2 linked regions of the Homo sapiens genome follow. Each later gene encodes a partner of the first gene's protein in a complex. Each region holds a gene or a part of one and is shown on either strand. Other genes may lie near its edges. The genes, in order: DDX19B and GLE1.

What was found.
Region 2: the proteins of DDX19B (region 1) and GLE1 are in contact, whole or in part, in a crystal structure (PDB 6B4J), measured with the Homo sapiens proteins. Residues at the interface, in NP_009173.1 of Homo sapiens: Cys325, Asn326, Tyr328, Gly329, Ala330, Ile331, Thr332, Ile333, Ala334, Glu356, Gly357, His358, Gln359, Arg378, Arg380, Glu381, Gly382, Lys383, Glu384, Lys385, Glu400, Gln401, Ser403, Phe433, Gly434, Lys435, Arg436, Asp469, Asp470, Leu471; in NP_001003722.1 of Homo sapiens: Lys416, Lys419, Met420, Gln423, Lys424, Thr427, Ile428, Ser431, Gln432, Ile433, Ser434, Thr435, Ile436, Lys440, Gln458, Ser459, Gly460, Lys479, Lys483, Lys486, Gln487, Glu490, Glu491, Ser494, His495, Gln554, Gln562, Asn565.

The regions. Positions count from the first base shown.
Region 1 is NC_000016.10:70,291,739-70,302,352, reverse strand, and holds the start of DDX19B (ATP-dependent RNA helicase DDX19B), read right to left. Parts: upstream 3,168-10,614; 5' UTR 3,056-3,167; coding exon 2,999-3,055; intron 1-2,998. UniProt on the Homo sapiens protein: ATP-dependent RNA helicase involved in mRNA export from the nucleus.
Region 2 is NC_000009.12:128,499,780-128,509,345, forward strand, and holds the start of GLE1 (mRNA export factor GLE1), read left to right. Parts: upstream 1-4,939; 5' UTR 4,940-5,026; coding exon 5,027-5,125; exon of another isoform or gene 5,126-6,194; intron 6,195-7,436; exon of another isoform or gene 7,437-7,453; coding exon of another isoform or gene 7,454-7,561; intron 7,562-9,096; coding exon 9,097-9,318; intron 9,319-9,566. Other genes in the region: ODF2 (outer dense fiber protein 2), read left to right, coding at 288-476. UniProt on the Homo sapiens protein: Required for the export of mRNAs containing poly(A) tails from the nucleus into the cytoplasm. May be involved in the terminal step of the mRNA transport through the nuclear pore complex (NPC).

The sequences.
Region 1 (10,614 bases):
GTTGCCTGTGGTGGTAGTTACACAACTGTATGCTTTTGTCAAAATTCATAGAACTGTACACTAACAAAGTTTAATTTTACTCTGTGTAAATTATACCTCCATAAACCTGACTTTTAAAAAAATTAAAGGGCTGGCCAGGTGTGGTGGCTCACGCCTGTAATTCTAGGACTTTGGGAGGCTGAGGCATGCGGATCACTTGAGGTCAGGAGTTCAAGACCAGCCTGGCCAACATGGTGAAACCCCACCTCTACTAAAAATACAAAAAGTAGCCAGGCATGGTGGCACATGCCTGTAATCCCAGCTACTCGGGAGGCTGAGGCAGGAGAATCGCTTGAACTCAAGAAGCAGAGGTTGCAGTGAGCCAAGATCGTGCCATTGCACTCCAGCCTGGCGGACAAGAGCGAAACTTCATTTCAAAAAAAAAAAAAAAATTAAAGGGCCAGTCCAACAGATCCAACATTCATCTAATAAGAGTTCTGGGAAAAGCTATGCAGTGGTGCGCACCTGTAGTCCCAGCTACGAGGGAGGCTGAGGCAGGAGGATCACTTGAGCCCAGGAGTTCAAGGTTGTAGTACACTATGATTCTGCCTGTGAATAGCTACTGCACTCCAAATTGGGCAACATAGACAGACACTGTCTTAAAAAAAAAAAAAAAAGAGAGAGAGAGAAAGAAAGAGAGAAAGTGAGTTCTGGAAAAGAGGGAATTAAGAAAAAACAAAGAAGAAGAAATCAGCAATGAAATTATTCAGGAAAAGTTCTCATAACTGAAGAACAAGAGTTTTTCAGATTGAAAGTACCCACACCCAGGGGCCAGTAATATGGATGAAAATACACCCATACCAAGACATATTACCATAAATTTTCTGAATATTAAAGACAAACAGAAGATTCTCCAAGCTTAGAAAGGGGAAAACAAGTCACATCAAGAATCAGGATGGTCTCAAACATTTCAACAACAAATACAGAAATCTAGAAGGCAATGGAACAATACATTTAAAATTTGGCAGGAAAATAATTTTCAACCTACAATTCTATACCCAGCCAAACTATTATCCAAATTACAGGGCAAAGTTAGATTTTTTAAGACATGGAATATTCTTAAAGTAATTTACTTCCCGTACACCTCCAGAAAGCTGACAGATGGCTGCACTAAAATAAGGAATAAATCAAGAAAGATGGAAAAGTAGGGGTACAGAAAGGAAGGGATCCAAGAGATCCAAAAGACAAGAGAAAGGAGGAAGGAATCTGCAGAATGAGGCTGAAGGGAAATTTGCCCTGTTCCCTCTATTCCCCAATATGAACTGTGCTCTAAAGACAGGAGTAACTAGTCCAATTTGAAGCAGACTTAAAGGCCTAGGAGAAATGGAATTGATAGAATACTTGATGAGTCTAAGCATCCTGAGATAAACTTAGACAACTGGAAGACAGTTTGGGGTTGAATTGATAATTAAGAAAAAAAAATGAAGCATAAACATAAGGCAATTAAGAATTCCAAGTAAAATAAATTTTATAGAAAAGTAAAGGGCCAGGCAAAGTGGCTCAGGCCTATAATCCCAACACTTTGGGAGGCCGAGGTGGGAGGATGGCTTGAGCCCAGCAGGTCAAGACCAACCTGGGTAATATAGTGAGACCTCGTCTTCACAAAAAATTAAAAAGTTAGCTGCATATGTTGGCACATGCTTGTAGTCCCGGTTACTCAGGAAGCTGAGGTGGGAGGATCACTTGAGCCTGGGAAGGGGAGGTTGTAGTTGGCAAGAGATGGTGTCAATGCACTCCAGCCTGGGTGACAGGGCAAGACCCTCTCTCAAAAAATATATGTAAAGAAAGAAAGAAACAGAAAAAAGAGGCTGGATGCAGTGGCTCACACCTGTAATCCCAGCACTTTGGGAGGCTGAGGCAGGTGGATCACTTGCACGCTGGAGTTCGAGACCAGCCTGGGCAACATGGCAAGTCCCCATCTCTACAAAAAAAATACAAAAAGTAGTTGGGCATAGTGGCACATGACTACAGTCCCAGTTACTCAGGAGGCTGAGGTGGGAGGATGGCTTGAGCCTGGGAGGCAGAGACTGCAGTGAGCCAAGATCACTCCACTGCACCCTAGCCTGGGCAACAGAGTGTGACCCTGTCTCCAAAAAAAAAAAAGGAGTTGCCTCTGGGGAGGAAAAAAATTGGCGGGAACCGTTGTTTTTAAAATAACTTCACTCTTTAAACAATGTGTATATACAACTTATTTTTTATGAGCTATAAAAAATAAAAGACAAGGTTCTTATTCTTGAGGAAGTCATAGCAATAAGTACTAACAGAAGTAGGTTCAAAGCCTACTAGGATTTAAAGTGTTTCGGTGGGAGAAATTAATTCTACGCAGTAGTGTTTAACACATCTCTTGCTTACCATGTGTCAGGTCCAGAAAAAAAGAACAAAGTGAAGCCGATGAGGAAAGGATTTGCTGACTGCCACACCTACTGGGTCCATCATTTATCACTGAGGAAGCACACAAATATGAGCAAAGACATGGTCCCTGAGCCAAAGAAGCTCTGAATGTAGAGGTGGAGAATGACACCTAAAATAACTATTACAAACCGGGGCGGCCAGGAACAATGGCTCAGCCTGTAATCCTGGTGCTTTGAAAGGCCGAGGCAGGAAGATAGCTTGAGACCAGGAGTTCCAGACTAGCCTGGGCAACCTAGCAAGACCATGTCTCTATTTCAATTAAAAACAAACAAAACACAATCTAGGGTGATGGGTGCAATCTATGATTCTTCCTGGTTCCAGGAAGACAGACAGGCAGCTGAGCGCTTTACCGATAGGAGCACTCACCTGCGCTTACGTAACGCGGAGGCGGCTGCGTAAACAAAGCCAGCTCAGGGTCCAGGCTCCATCCCTATCCTCCCCGCCACCCCATCCAGCCTCTAATCAACCTGGGAAACATTCTTTCCCAGGGACCAAGTCTCCGACCAGAACTAGTCCCCTGACCCTTTTAGGGCTGAAGCCAACTCACCGACTCAGCCGCAGCTTCCTGCTCGTCCACCGCCAGGGCCCATGAGTCAGTGGCCATGGTCCCAGGCGCGGGTGGGACGCTCGTGCTGGTGGATTCGAGGGATGGCACGAGGGATCGTGGGCTCCGGGGGTTCGCGGCAGGCTCTGCTCCAGCCCCACTACAAGGCTGCAGACCGGAAGCGGCGCGCCACAGTGACGTCGGAGGCCACTCCTGTTTGGCCACCCTTTGCCCACTTGAGGCTGTCGATTCTGTTGCCCTCAGACCCGTACCCCTCAACCCCGGGCAGAGCAAGCTTTCCTATCAAGCTGAGGTAGTTATCTTAAAATGCCTAAGCTCTGGTTAACTTGGATCTCCAACCAAAGAACAAAATCAGATTCCCGCCCAACACAGTGGCAGAGTAGGCACTAATACAGATTGAACAGATTGAATATATCAAAACAGAAAACCATTACCAATAGTCACCAAAATGCAAAACAAGCACAGAGCTGTTTCCCTTTTCAGATTGGTAATTTAAAATGTCCAGATGTTGGCAATCAGCCCTGACAACCCATTTGGTTAAAAGTCCACTTGACCACTATGCAATCTTGTTAGGCATGTAACAAAACTGCACCTGCACTCATAAATTTGTACCCCAAGAGGAGGAATTGCAGCTCTCCTATGTAAGCGTTGTAGAATCAGGAGAATGTTAAAAAGGAAGAAAACAGACGGTGCGGTGGCTCATGCATGTAATCCCAGCACTTCTGGAGGCCGAGGCGGAAGGATCACTTGAGCCCAGGAGGTCTAGGCTGCAGTGAGCCATGACAGGGCCACTGCACTCCAGCCTGGGTGACAGAGCAAAACTCTGTCTAGGAAAAAAATAAATAAAATTAAAATAGTAAAATAATTAAATAGAGCTAGGTGTGGTGGCTCATGCCTGTAATCTCAGCACTTGGGTTTTTGTTTGTTTTTTGAGATTGAGTCTGGCTCTGTCGCCCAGGCTGGAGTGCAGTGGCACGATTTCGGCTCACTGCAACCTCCACCTCCTGGGTTCAAGAAATTCTCTTGCCTCAGCCTCCCAAGTAGCTGGGATTACAAGCATGCGCCACCATGCCCAGCTAGTTTTTCTATTTTTAATAGAGATGGTGTTTCACCATGTTGGCCAGGATGGTCTCAATCTCCTGACCTCGTGATCCGCCTGCCTTGGCCTCCCAAAGTGCTGGGATTACAGGCGTGAGCCACTGCACCCGGCCTTTTGTTTTTTTAAGATAGAGACAGATCTTGCTGTGTTGTCCTGGCTGGTCTCAAACTCCTGAGCTCAAGTGATCCTCCCACCTCCACCTCCCAAAGTGCCAGGATTGGCCAGGCACAGTAGCTCACATGTGTAATCCTAGCATTTTGGGAGGTGGAGGTGGGAGGATCGCTTGAATCCAGGAGTTTGAAAACAACAACATAGCGAGGCCTTATCCTTACACAAGAAAAATTTAAAAATTAGCCAGGTGTCGTCGCACATGCCTGCAGTTCCAGCTACTTGGGAGGCTGAGGTGGGAGGATCACTTGAGCCCAGGAGGTTGAGGCTGCAGTTAGCAGTGTTTGTGTCACTGCACTCTAGTCTGCGCAACAGAGTAAGACTCTGCCTCATAAACAAATAAATAAATAGGAAGAAATATCTTGGGCTTTTAGTAGTTGTAAAATAAGGATTAAATGAAAGAACTGCTTTCTCCTAACTAGAATCAAAGAAGCTTCTCTTCCCTTGTTACTTCCCTAGAAAGAAACTAGGCATTTTCCTACAATCTGAAAAAAATGAATCCCAACCTCTTTCATTTTGCCAATATTATACAACAATAAGTTAATTTCAAGCCATGAGGCCGGGCACAATGGCTCACACCTGTAATCCCAGCACTTTGGGAGGCCAAGGTGGGTGGATCACCTGAGGTCAGGATATCAAGACCAGCTTGGCCAACATGGTGAAACCCTATCTCTACTAAAAATACAAAAATTAGCCAAGCATGGTGGTGCACACCTGTAATCCCAGCTACTTGTAAGCCTGAGGCAGGAGAATCACTAGAACCCGGAAGGCAAAGGTTGCAGTGAGCCGAGATCATGCCATCACACTGCAGCCTGGGCGACGAGTGAAACTCTGTCTCAAAAAAAATAAATAAATAGACTGGGCACGGTGGCTTGCACCTGTAATCCCAGCACTTTGGGAGGCCAAAGCAGGTGGATCACGAGGTCAGGAGATTGAGACCATCCTGACCAACATGGTGAAACCCTGTCTCTACTAAAAATACAAAAATTAGCTGGGTGTGGTGGCATGCACCTGTAGTCCCAGCTACTTGGGAGGCTGAGGCAGGAGAATCGCTTGAACCCGGGAGGTGGAGGTTGCAGTGAGCCAAGATCATGCCACTGCACTCCAGCCTGGACGACAGAGCAAGACTCTGTCTCAAATAAATACATAAATAAAAACAAACAAACAAAAATCAAGCCATGGTGGGTTCTCTGTGGAATTTTACCAGTACTGTAAGAGTAAAAACGTTTTGAGAAAGGGTAAAGCAGTTCCAGAGAACATTCTACTTGCTATGATTATTTTTTCCTGCACTCTCACAGGGTTAACTGGAGAAGACGTTTTTGTTTTTTGTTTTTGACCTTACACATGAGGATGTGCTAAAAAGAAAAAGGCAAACACCACCTTGGTAGCCATGACCTACATCTCATCAATTCAGAAGCAACCCTGGGGATATTTTCCCAGATAAATTATATTGTTTCACAGGGCTAGAGGTTAATGAAATTTGCAAAACATTTTAATGAGGTTAAAAATTACATCGCCCAAGTTGCAGGACCGTATATAGTAGGTTCACTTGTACAAAACAAACAGGAACCCCCACCCCAAAAGCCCCCAAGCTCCCATATATGCTTTTATACACTATGGAAAATGCCTAAGAAGACCGGAGCAGTGGCCTGTGTCTGCAGTCCCAGCTACTCCTGAAGCTGAGGTTGGAGGATCGCCTGAGCTCAGAAGTTCGAAGCCAGCCTGGACAACATAGTGAAACCATCGCCTCTTAAAAAAAAAAAAAATGTGGCCAGGTGCGGTGGCTCACGCCTGTAATCCCAGCAGTTTGGGAGGCCAAGGTGGTGGATCACGAGGTCAGGAGTTCAAGATCAGCCTGGTCAAGATGGTGAAACTCTGTCTCTACTAAAAATACAAAAATCAGCTGAGCATGGTGGTGGGTGCCTGTAATCCCAGCTACTTGGGAGGCTGAGGCAGAGAATTGCTTGAACCCAGGAGGCAGAGGTTGCAGTGAGCTGAGATCATGCCACTGCACTCCAGCCTGGGCAACAGAGCGAGCCTCTGTCTCAAAAAAAAAAAAAAAAATGCTTAAGATACACACAAAACTGATAACCATGGCTGCCCCTGGTGAGGGCCTCTAGAAGGGTGGGGGTGGATTGAGTATGCTTTATCCTCTGAAATTATTTTCCATATGCATGGTTTTTTTTAAATTAGAGACAGGGTCTTGCTATGTTGCCCAGGCTGGAGTGCAGTGGCTATTCACAGGCACCATTACAGCACATACTATATCCTTGAACTCCTGAGTTCAAGAGGTTCACCTGCCTCTGCTTCCCAAGTAGCTGGGACTACAGGTGTGTGCAGCTGTGCTTGGCTCCATGTTTCCCTTTTAAAAATGTATTTCAGACAAACAAGAAAGGGTATAACAAATACTTAGATTCCCACCTCAAAACTTAATAAATAAAATTACTAAGGTCCAATTGATAATCTCCGTATACTCATCCCAGGAAGACAGCAGCTATGCCAAATTTGGTGTTTATCCTTCCCGTACACGATTTTAGCATGTGTTTTTTCTTCTACTAAATAAATATGCAAGCCTGGGCAACATAGGGAGACCCCGTCTCTACCAAAAAAAAAAAAAAATTTTTTTTAAGTAGCTGGGCGTGGTGGCGTGAGCCTGTAGTCCCAGCTACTCCTGAGGCTGAGGTGGGAGGATCACTTGATCCCAGGAGTTCAAGGCTGCAGTGAGTCGTGATCATGCCACTGCACTCCAGCCTGTCTCAAAACAAAACAAAAAACAAAAAAACTTAAAAATAGCATCGGGGTTTCAGACTCTCCTAAGTTCACCCCCAATACACCTGCGCTTTGTGAGACTCCGGCTAAGAAGGAACCTGGTTTCCAAAGCGGGCGTGGAAAGAAGAGTGTTCGGGGAATAAGAGCATCTGGATTGGAATTCAGCCTCCTGCATTTATTCCCACGTGAGCCTAGCCAGTCTCAGTTTCCCCTGAAATCACAGGAAGTACCCACCTCACAGATGGCGGATTCTAGATCACAAGGCTAAGACCTTGGGCCGAAGCCTCGAGAAATATTGTTATTCCTCTACCCAGGAGTAGGGGCGAGGAAGGCACCTAAACGTGGGAGGAAAGGGTCTGGCTTCTACCCTCGCAGATACTCACGTCGCCCACAGGCAGGGTGATGGGAAACCGCCGCAGGGCGCGATCTTGGACGCGCCCGGCAGCCCCAGCCATCGCGGCTGAGCATGGCAGTTACACTCCAACAACCGCTGCTCTTGGCACTGGCCAAGCCGGAGCCTCATTGGCTGAGGCCTGGAAATCCTGTCAGCCAATCAGCTGAGGGGACGGTACAGCGCTCGGGCACGCGCCCCAGGAACTCTGGGGGCCAAAGACAAGCGCAAGCCTCCCGCAGAGGGCTTTGTTTCCTGCTAAATGTCTGGCTTCCTGGTGAGACTGGGAACTCCATGAGGGCAGGGCAAGATCTTTAATCTTGATCCTCAGTGACTAACACATAGTGGTCACTCATTTGGTGAATCATGAGCCATTAGCATCTCCCCCCGTGGGTCAAACTTTTTAAAAATTTTGCATCTGAACAAATAGGTGCAGACGCACATCCTCTAATCTAGACCCTTGGTATTCCAAGTATAATCTCTCAGCAGCATAGATATCGCCTGAAGCCTGTTAAAAATGCAGGCTCTCGGCCGGGCACGGTGGCTCACGCCTGTAATCCCAGCACTTTGGGAGGCCGAGGCGGGTGGATCACGAGGTCAGGAGATCGAGGCCATTCTGGCTAACACTGTGAAACCCCGTCTCTACTAAAAATACAAAAAATTAGCTGGGCGTGGTAGCGGGCGCCTGTAGTCCCAGCTACTCGCAAGGCTGAGGCAGGAGAATGGCGTGAACCCGGGAGGCGGAGCTTGCAGTGTGCAGAGATCGCGCCACTGCACTCCAGCCTGGGCGACAGAGTGAGACTCCGTCTCAAAAAAAAAAAAAAAAAAAAAAAAAAATTCAGGCTCTCAGGCCCTACCCCAGACCTATTCAATTTAGCAATATTTTAAGATCCTAGGTGATTCCTTTAGCGTTTTATGGTCTGAAAAGTACATTAGACAAAAAAATTATAATATGCTCAATTGAAATATTCCTTTAGAGGTTCTTAAAAATTCAGCCTTGGCCGGGCGCGGTGGCTCACGCCTGTAATCCCAGCACTTTGGGAGGCCGAGGCGGGTGGATCATGAGGTCAGGAGATCGAGACCATCCTGGCTAACAAGGTGAAACCCCGTCTCTACTAAAAATACAAAAAATTAGCCGGGCACGGTGGCGGGCGCCTGTAGTCCCAGCTACTCGGGAGGCTGAGGCAGGAGAATGGCGTGAACCCAGGAAGCGGAGCTTGCAGTGAGCCGAGATTGCGCCACTGCAGTCCGCAGTCCGGCCTGGGCGACAGAGCGAGACTCCGTCTCAAAAAAAAAAAAAAAAAAAAAAAAATTCAGCCATCCCCATTTGACTTAGTACCAAATAAGCCAGCATTGTAAACCCATTTTATAGATGCTAAAAGTAGCTAAGATGCCATGGGAGAGTTAAGAGTCTAGCGCTACATCCTTCCAAAGCTATGTTAGTTTTTTTTTTTTTCCACTTGTTTCCATTTCTTTCTTTTTTTTTTCAATTGAGACACTGTCTCATTCTGCCACCCAGGCTGGAGTGCAGTGGCACGATCATGGCTTACTGCATCCTTTACTTCCCTGTCTCAAGCTATCCTCCCACCTCAGCCTCCTGAATAGCTGGGACTACAGATGCATGCCACCATGCCCAGCTAATTTTTGTATTTTTTTGTAGAGGTTGAGTTTTGTCATGTTGCTCAGGCTAGTCTCAAACTCCTGGGCTCAAGCCATCCACCCACCTCAGAATCCCAAAGTATGGTGATTAAAGGTATACGCCATCACGCCGGCCTGTTTCTGTTTGTTGTTTTTATTATTTTTTAAATTTAATTTAATTTAATTTTTTTGAGACAGAGTTTCCCTCTTGTCTCCCAGGCTGGAGTGCAGTGGCACAATCTTGAGTCACTGCAGCCTCTGCCTCAGCCTTCTGAGTAGCTGGGATTACAGGTGGCCGCCACCACACCCAGATAATTTTAGTATTTTTAGTAGAGATGGGGTTTCACCAGGTTGACCAGGCTGATTTTGAACTCCCAACCTCAGGTGATCTGCCCGCCTCGGCCTCCCAAAGTGTTGGGATTACAGGCATGAGCCACTGTGCCTGGCCTGTTGTTTCACTCTGCGGCCCAGGCTGGAGGGTAGTGGGGCAATCACAGCTGTTGTACTATTTCAGTTCTTTGGTTATCTTTCTCATGCCCCAAGATGGAGTTCAACAAATGTTCTACTGGAGAGCAAGCCATGTGCATATCGCTCACTCCCACCTACAGGCCTATTTGCTTAGCCTAGAGTAAATCAAGAACTTGCCAGTAGTTTCCTAAAATACATAATTTGCACATTGCATTAAGATAGCATTCTTTCTAGCATGTAGTTGACATCTACAAGAGAAAAATATCACAGAAAAATATCATTAGATAATTATATTAGAATGAGACTTTTGGGCCTCAATTACAATTTCTTTCTTTTTTTTGTTTTAAGAGACAAGGGGGCCGGACGCGATGGCTCACGCCTGAAATCCCAACACTTTGGGAGGCCAAGGCAGGCGAATCACCTGAGGTCGGGAGTTCAAGACCAGCCTGGCCAACATGGCGAAACCCTCATCTCTACTAGAAATAGAAGAAAAAAAAATAACTGGGCGTGGTGGTGGCGCCTGTAATCTCAGCTACTCGGGAGGCTGAGCCAGGAGGCAGATGTTGACATGAGCCGAGATCATGCCATTGCACTCCAGCCTGGGCAACAAGAGTGAAACTCTGCCTCAAAAAAAGGAAAAAAAAAGAGAGAGAGACAAGGGTCTTGCTTTGTTGCCCAGGCTGGAGTGCAGTCGCGAGATCTCAGCTCACTGAAGCCTTCAGCTTCTGGGCTCCAAGTGATTCTCCTTCCTCAGCCTCTTGAGCAGCTGGGACTACAGGCGAATGCCACCACGCCTAGCTAATTAAAAAGAATTTTTTTTTTTTAACAGAGTCTCACTATGTTGCCTAGGCTGGTTTCAAACACTTGGGCTCCATTGATCCTCCTGCCTTGGCCTCCCAAAGTGTTGGGATTACAGGTGTGAGTCTCTGTGCTGGCCTACAATCTCTCTTAATGGGTGAATAAAAAATTCTTATTTATTTATTTATTTATTTTGAGACAAAGTCTCGCTCTGCGGCCCAGGCTGGAGTGCAGTGGCCTGATCTCGGCTCACTGCTAGCTCCGCCT
Region 2 (9,566 bases), on another chromosome or scaffold:
TTGTATTTTTTGTAGAGATAGAGTCTCACTATGTTGCCCATGCTGGTCTTGAACTCCTAGGCTCCAGTGATCATTCCGTCCTGACCTCCCGAAGTGTTGGGATTATAGGCATGAGCCACTGTGCCTGGTCTTAGAATATTTTCAGAAAGAAACCCCATACCCATTAGAAGTCACTCCACACTCGCCTCCCCAAACCTCCTGGCAACTCCTAAGAAAGTCCCTATGTCTCTATGGATTTCTATTTTGGACACTGCACAGCGGGCCCATGCTCTGTTTCTCCTCGTTAGGCGGACCGCCGCTACCAGAGCCGGCTGCAAGACCTGAAAGATCGCCTGGAGCAGTCCGAGAGCACCAACCGCAGCATGCAGAACTACGTCCAGTTCCTCAAATCATCATACGCCAACGTGTTTGGGGATGGTCCCTATTCCACCTTCCTGACTAGCTCTCCCATCCGCTCCCGATCTCCTCCTGCCTGAGGCCACTTATCAGGGCCTGGAGCCCTGATGGAAGCCATAGGAACTCCAGAGTTGCCAAGCCATAGCTGAGAAGCCTGGTGGTTTTCCTCTCCCAGTGAAAAAATGGGTTCAGGGTCTTGTCCTTAGCTACTAGCTCTAGAAAAGTCCCAAAAGCAGCAGAAGGTGAAGCAGGAAGCACTTGGTTTTCTCCTTCCTGATATAGTCACCTGTTGGAAGTGTTAAAATTTCCTCGACAGGCCTTAAATTTACTACTACATTAGGGTACCACATTTTAACTTACCATGACTTTGCTCCTTCCTTTCCTGAGAAAATATTTCCACTGGATTTTTTCCACCAGTCCCCTTACAGCCCTCATTGTTTTAGGAATCTCTCTCAGGTTTTTTCTGACCTAAACCAGCAGGAAGTCGTCCTGGGCTGTAAGCACCATCACTTGCTTTTTTTTTTTTTCTGATTTCACAAGTGTGGTGTTTTCCCAAGGCTCCCTTCCCAAGCTCAGTGCAAACCTCTCACTCCCAAGTTTCTTTGAGGCCACTTGCCCCCAAGCACTTCACAATAGACCCTCGAGGGCTTGTGTCCATTTGGCCTTTTACAAGTGTAATGCCAATTTCATTGATTTTTGTTTCTTTTGGCCTGATTTGTATCTCTGGAATGCATTTATTCTTGAAATATTTGTGTGATTTTACAAAAAGCTTTTGTAATCAGTTATTTAAGGCTCCATTTGATGATTTCCTTTACCCAACCAGTCCTCATCCCTCCTCTAAAAAATGATTAAGTAAAATGCTGCAGGACAGCCAGTAGACATTTTTAAAGTACTTGGTGCCTGAAACATCAGGCTTCTCATTTCATTTTAGCTCAGGTTGGTGCTTTCACATTGTAATCAATGAACTGTCAGGAGGGAACAAACTGTAAGAAGGATTGCTTGGTGTTTTAGGGTAGATCACTTTAGCTATTAGGAAGAGGATGGGGTAGTGTACAGTATATATTTTTAAAATGTGAATTGGTTTCTGAATAAGAATCTGGGCCATTTTTGTTCACCATTTTTGTTCGTACTGTGCTAACCTCTGCCCTTCTGATTCTAGCTAGTATTGGCCTGGGTGGTCCAGTCTTCTCACCTCTCAGCCACTCTGACTCAACTCTAGAGAATTTCTTCTCTGTTCTTTTTTCTTCTGGAGACAGGTCTCTGTCACCCACACTGAGTGCAATGGCGGGAACATGGCTCACTGCAGCCTTGACTTCCCTAGCTCAAGCAATCCTCCCACCTCAGCCTCCACAGTAGCTGAGAGCACAAGTGTATGCCACCATGCCCATCTAATTTTATTATTTTTTGTAGAGACAGATCTCACCACATTGCCCAGGTTGGTCTTGAATTCCTGGGCCCAAGTGAACCTCTCATTTTGGCCCCCCAGAGTGCTGGGATTACAGGGGTGAGCCACCACACCCAGCCTTCTCTGTGTTCTTGAATCCACCTAGGCATCTGGATTTCAAAGACCAGAAATCTCTTTTCTCTACCAAATTTTGAGGATATTTATAGTTTCCAGCTTTCAGTTTTTCCAATGAAGGTAATTCCAGCTACCACTGCCAAAAAAACTAAGCCCATTTTCATACTCTTAACGTAAATAGACAAGAACTTATAATAGGTGAAAGACCTTCCCGAGAAAGGACAATTGACAAACTTCCACCAGCATGTATATATATCTGTATAACTCATTATTATTTTTGCCAAACTAGAGAAAACCTCAGTGCAGGGCACTGCTATGTAACTCTGGTGTGAGCAACACCTCTCTTGGAGTCCCTTGCTGGGACTCTGGGGACTCTTCCAACAATTTTTCTTTTTAAAATATTTTTATTACAAGAAGTCCAGGGAATTTTTAAAAACTCAGAAAATGAAAATTGTTCACATTGCTCATACTCCAGAGAGAATTCTTCCTACCTCAAACTGAGATCTCACGAGGTGGTGGACAATGGAAGGGTCAGAAAGTCTGGGGTCCCAGTTAGAGCCGTCTCTGGACAATTGTGACTCATTCTATTTTTATTGAGATATAATTCACATAAAATTCACTCTTTTTATTTTTTTGAAACAGGGTCTCCCTCTGTCATCCAAGCTGGTGAGCAGTGGCACAATGATGGCTCACTACAGCCTCAGCCTCCTGGGTTTAAGCGATCTCCTGCCTCAGCCTTCTGAGTAGCTGGGAGCACAGGTGCATGCCACCATGCCTGGCTAATTTTTGGATTTTTTTTTTTTTTGGTAGAGGCAGGTCTCATCATGTTGTCCAGGTTGGTCTCAAACTCCTGGGCTCAAGCCATCCTCCTACCTTGGCCTCCCAAACTGCTGGGATTACAAGCATGAGCCACCATACCTGGCCTAGAATTCACCCTTTTAAAGTGTAAATATAGGCCAGGCGTGGTCACTCACACCTGTAATCCCAGCACTTTGGGAGGCCGAGGCGGGTGGATCACCTGAGGTCAGGAGTTCGAGACCAGCCTGGCCAACATGGTGAAACCCTGTCTCTACTAAAAATACAAAAATTAGCCGGGAGTGGTGGTGGACGCCTGTAGTCCCAGCTACTTGGTAGGTTGAGGCAGGAGAATCACTTGAACCCAGGAGGTGGAGGTTGCAGTGATCCAAGATCACGCCACTGCACTCCTGCCTGGGCAACACGGCGAGATTCTGTCTCGAAAAGATAAAGTGTATATATAATTCAATGGTTTGTAGTATATTCACCAAGTTGTGTAGCCATCACCATTATCTAATTCTAGACCTAGTTTTTTCTTTTTTCGAAATGGAGTCTCTCTCTGTCACCCAGGCTACAGTGCAGTGGCACCATCTCGGCTCACTGCAGCCTCTGCCTCCAGAGTTCAAGGGATCCTCCTGCATCAGCCTGTGGGGACTATAGGTGCATGGCACTTTGCCTGGCTAATTTTTGTATTTTTTGTAGAGACAGGGTTTTGCCATGTTGCCCAGGCTTGTCTGAAACTCCTGACCTCAGGTGATCTGCCCACCTTGGCCTTCCAAAGTGCTGGGATTACGGCACCCAGCCAACCAATTTCATCACTCCCAAAAAAGAAACGCCATACCCATTAGCAGTCACTCCCCATTCCCCTCCCCCAGCCCCTGGCAACTAGTCATAAAGTTTCTCTGGCTCTATAGATTTGTCTCTTCTGGATATTTCACATAAGTGGAATTGTCCAACATGTGGCCATTCATGACTGGCTTCTCTCAGCATAATGCTTTCAAGATTGATGTTGCAGCGTATCATCAGCACTTTATTTTTATGGCCCCATAACATTCCATTATATAGATGTGGTGTTTCCTCCTGCCAAACAGGGCTGGTTGGGATTCCAAAGAAGCACTATGGCCGGGCGCAGTGGCTCATGCCTGTAATCCCAACGCTTTGGGAGGTCGAGGTGGGTGGATCAACTGAGGTCAGGAGTTCGAGACCAGCCTGACCAACATGGTGAAACCCCGCCTCTGCTAAAAATACAAAATAGCTGGGCGTGGTGGCTGGCGCGTGTAGTCCCAGCTACACGGGGAGCTGAGGCAGGAGAATCGCTTGAACCCGGGAGGCGGAGGTTGCAGTGAGCCGAGATCGAGCCACTGTACTCCAGCCTGGGGGACAGAGCAAGACTCTGTCTCAAAAAAGCAGCATTAAACCCAAAACATTTATTAGGGAAGCTTACAGAGTGGGCTGCAGCAATTCTCGCGACAGACAGAGAGAAGCGGTGTTTCACCTAGGTACATCCCCAGCGAGGGGTCAGGGTATGAAGTTTATATGAGGGTTTATGGAATTTGGCTAAAAGCAGGGGTCAGTTTCAGCGTTTTGGGCAATAACCTAGATATCCTTAGTGCCTAGGGATATGCAAGGCCCGTGTTTGGTTGCAAGTCTGCAGGAAAAAACTTGCAGCTGGCTGGGTCACAGGGCGGTCAAGGCACTCTGATACTTGGTCAGTGCACAGAAAGCGGGGGAACTCGGGAACCGCGCACATAGTACTATATTTTATTTATCCATTCACCAATGGATGGACGTTTGGGTTGCTTTCACTTTTTGGCTATTATGAATAACACTGCTGTGAACATTCATGGACAAGTTTTTATATATACATAGGTTTCATTTCTTTGGCGTATTTTATATATATATATATATTTACCTAGGAGAATTGCTGGGTCAAATGGTAATTGTTTAACCTTTTGAGGAACTGCCAGACTGTCTTCCACAGCAGGTGCTTCATTTTACAGTCCCATGAGCAGTGTATGAGGGTTCCAGTTTCTGCACAGTCTCAAGGCACAGACAAATTTTCAGCAGCCCCGGGGATTGGGAGCGGTGGTTACCTCTGCGGAACGTGCCCCGACAGCCAAGCCCTGCGCGCAGGCGCACTGGTGGGAGGGCGGGAACGCGGGAGCGTCGCCGGAGGTGGGGCGTGCAGGCGTTAGGGGCGGGGCTGTGCTGCGCGCGCGTCCCGGAAGCAGAAGCCTGTGTGGCCTTCCCGGCGGCTGATTCGAGGGCTTGTTTGGTCAGAAGGGGGGCGTCAGAGAAGCTGCCCCTTAGCCAACCATGCCGTCTGAGGGTCGCTGCTGGGAGACCTTGAAGGCCCTACGCAGTTCCGACAAAGGTCGCCTTTGCTACTACCGCGACTGGCTGCTGCGGCGCGAGGTGAGCGGTGGCCCCGGAGGACGTAGGCCTTTCCGGCCCCTCGCGACCGAAACCTTCTCCCTAGCCGTTGGCACGTTCTGCTCCCGGGAACCCGTGCAGTCTAACAACCTGCATTTATTTCTTGACTTCTGTGTGTACATCCCTCTGTCCTGGGGTTTCTGTCCTCTTCAGCCTATTTTAGCGTTTCGGGGAGCTCCCCTGACTTCACAGGTGCCCCGCGCTCTGAAGGCTTCATTGCTACCCTCCGCCAGTTGGGCGCCTTCTCCGTTCTGCTGTTGTCAAAGCAATCTCGGCCCCAGGTTCAGTTAACTTACTGTATGTCTCATGTGCTGGGAGCTCTAGAGTTTGCGACGAACGATTGACACGACCTAATCCATTGCTACTAGTGAAATGACCAAATTTTTAGATTGATTTGGCAGACCTGGAAAGTGAATGGGGGCGTGGTCACCGTACCTAGCATTTGCAAAGCTCTGCGCGAGAAGTGGAGGGATGTGGAGAGTTAAGGCCGAGCTCCCATTCCCGAGTCGCTGCTAGTTAGCTACAGATAAGGCGTTGTCCTGCATCCTCAGACTTCTTGGGAAACAATCCTAAAGTATTTCCCTGTCTTTTATGTTGTTGACAGTTTTGAAAAATACAGACCTTACATTCTGTAGGTTGACTGCCAGCATATGTGCTTTCAAACCACCAGACCAAGGTTAAGCATTCTTGGCAGGAATACCACAGAAATGATGCCATGGCTTTCTCAGTAAGTCACATGAGGAGGCACACAGATGTCAACCCATCCCAACACTGGTGATGCTAATCTTGATCACCTGGTTACGTTATTATCTGCCTGGTCTCTCCGTTTAAAATTCGTCATTTTTCCCTTAGTAATTGTTGGGAAGTAATAATACCAGTATCCTTTTTTCTGGGCAAACCTTAATCCTCCATGGCTTTAGCATTCATTGATGTTTTCCACATGAATCGATACCTCTATGACGTTGCCAGATCCTGTTTCTTTATATCCGCTATTCCTTCTGCATTTGTTAGTTGGCATTCTACTGTAAGGAGGTGCTTTCTATTTTATTCAGTGAGTTGTAATCCATTACTTTTATTATTTATTTATTTTATTTTAAATGTCCCAGATTTTGTAAGCTTGTATCAAAATAATCACATGCAAGGCTAGGCGTGGTGGCTCAGGCCCGTAATCCCAGCACGTTGGGAGGCCGAGGGGGACGGATCACTTGAGGTCAAGAGTTCGCGACCAGCCTGGCCAACATGGTGAAACCGCATCTCTACTAAAAATACAAAATTAGCCGAGCATGGTGGTGCATGCCTGTAATCCCAGCTACTCGGGAGACTGAGGCATGAGAATTGCTTGAACCCTGGAAGCAGAGGTTGCAGTGAGCCGAGATTGTGCTGCTGCACTCAAGCCTGGGTGACAGAGTGAGACTGTGTCTCAAAAAAAAAAATGTAGCCTTGTAAATATGTACAACAATTATGTATTCATAAGAATTAAAAAGAAAAATGTCCCAGATTTGGCTACTGGGCACCTCATTAAGTTGGTTCCTGTGTTCCTGTGACATATTTCCATCTTTCATTGACATTTCTTTACTTTTTGACACAAAAAGATGTCCCAGGTGCAAGTTTCCCTGTCTTAATCCTGGAATCAGCTATTTCTCCAAAGAGGCTGACTCTTTTGAAGTGGAGGATGGTGCTGTATTGGCAAACCAAGATCTGGGAGTTGAGTGTGTTGAGATTCTTGATTGGGTACCATTGCTTCTAGGCCTTCTCAGTAGACAGAGCTAGGAAATAATACATATCTAAATATGTACACACATCACCACACACACATTTATGTACTGTCTATTTGTGTGTACATATATATTATAAAACCATGACTTCATACTGATAAATGCCACTTCCAACCCAGCACTTCACTTTTCTTTCTAATCTTACCCCATCCATGTTTGTAAATATGTTACCTAGCAGTGAGAAGTTTGGCTCCTGTTATTCTCAATATGTTTACTTATTTGCTCAATCAGTTTACTTTATCTCATTGTAGCAATCTCTGAACTACTCTAGTTTTTTCATTTATTTATTATATCATAGGTAATCAGTACTTATTTTCTCATACAAAGATGTTCCACGCTCATCTTATATTTTTCTGCCTCCAGTTCTGGAACTTACCTTTTCTGCAGAGACCCCTGGTTTCCTTTGATTTAAAATTATATTTACAAACCAAGATCTGGTACTAGATATGCTCATTATTACTACTAAGGGTGTATACATACATATCCATATCTATTTCTATTTTTTAAAATATTATTAGGCTGGTTGTGGTGACTCATGCCCATAATCCCAACACTTTGCGAGGCTGAGGCAGGACGAGTGCTTGAGGCCAGTTCAAGCTGGGAGCCAGGCTTGGTGTCTCACACCTGCAATCCCAGCACTTTGGTAAGTCAAGGTGGGCAGATCACTTGAGCCCAGAAGTTCGACACCAGCCTGGGCAATGTGGAGAAACCTCACCTCTACAAAAAATACAAAAAAATTAACCAGGTGTGGTGGTGCGTGCCTGTAGTCCCTGCTCCTTGAGAGGCTGAGGTGGGAGTATTACCTGAGCATGAAAAGTTGAGGCTGCAGTGAGCCGTGATCACGCCACTGCACTCCAGCCTGGGGAACAGAATGAGAGCCTGTCTCTCAAAAAAAAAAAAAAAAAAATAGTCGGGCGTGGTGGCTCACGCCTGTAATCCCAACACTTTGGGAGGCTGAGGTGGGTGGATCACCTGAGGTCAGGAGTTTGAGACCAGCCTGGCCAACATGGTGAAACCCTGTCTCTAGTAATAATACAAAAATTAGCCGGGTGTGGTGGTCGACACCTGTAATCCCAGCTGCTCGGGAGGCTGAAGCAGGAGAATTGCTTGAACCCGGGAGGTGGAGGTTGCAGTGAGCTGAGATCGTGCCACTGCACTCCAGCCTGGGTGACAGAGCAAGACTCCATCTCAAAAAAAAGGCTGGGCACACAGTGGCTCACGCCTGTAATCCCAGCACTTTGGGAGGCTGAGGCGGGTGGATCGCCTGAGGTCAGGAGTTCGAGACCAGCCTGACTAACATGGAGAAAACCCCGTATCTACTAAAAGTACAAAATTAGCCAGGCATGGTGGTGCATGCCTGTAATCCCAGCTACTCAGGAGGCTGAGGCAGGAGAATCACTTGAACCTGGGAGGTGGAGGTTGTGGTGAGCCAAGATCGTGCCATTGCACTCCAGCCTGGGCAACAAGAGCGAAACTCCATCTCAAAAAAAAAAAAAAAAAAGACCAGCCTGGGCAACATATCAAGACTCCATCTCTATAAAAAATGAAAAAATAATTAGCTGAATATAGTGGCGCATGCCTGTACTCCCAGCTGCTGGGGAGACTGGTTGAGGTGGGAGGATAGCTTGAGCCCAGGAGGTCAGGCTACAGTGAGCCATGATTAGGTCACTGCACTCCAGCCTGGGTAACAGAGTGAGACCCTGTCTCAAAAATAATTAATTTTAAAAATGAAAAAATATATACATCTAGGTTTGTGTAAGGATGCTTTACGATACTCGCACAATGACAAGATCACCTAACCCTGTGTTTCTCAGAACTTACCCCCATTGTTAAGTGACTGACATTCTACTGATTGTGTATACAGTAGCTTACTTCAGAATTCCTCGTGTTCTGTTCAGTGCTTTAGATTGCTTTCACATATGCTTTAGTGGGAATCTTTGTGCATTGTCCCTTTTTCTGTAGTTAGGGTTATTTAGTCTGATTTTCATTAGAAGGATAGTAGTCTAGGTCATTATCAAGAAACCACTGTACTTTGTTTTCATCTGATTGTTAATACATTACTTTGGGTCTTTGATGTTTATTTATTTAGGCCTTCTTAGATGTTCAGTAAGGCATGTAGTGGATTATACTGAGAACAGTTGACGTGTAAGTTGAGCTTAACCCTATTCTTTTCTCTAGGATGTTTTAGAAGAATGTATGTCTCTTCCCAAGCTATCTTCTTATTCTGGATGGGTGGTAGAGCACGTCCTACCCCATATGCAGGAGAACCAACCTCTGTCTGAGACTTCGCCATCCTCTACGTCAGCTTCAGCCCTAGATCAACCCTCATTTGTTCCCAAATCTCCTGACGCAAGCTCTGCCTTTTCCCCAGCCTCCCCTGCAACACCAAATGGAACCAAGGTAAGGTTGTGATCAGCTTAAGACAAAAGACATGGTGGCTGCAAAGTCAAAATGTTTAATATTGTCATATGACAGTGACCATACCCTAGGGGAAATAATGATTGCTCATTGTTGTAGCTGTTGTAGAGACAATGTTGACAGCACCATTCAGTGTTCTCTTTAGACAGATCCAGAGGGAGAAAAATCCCCTCTATTCTTAGTACCGAGAATAGTATAACTAATTTCATGAGCAATTGGATTTTTTTTTT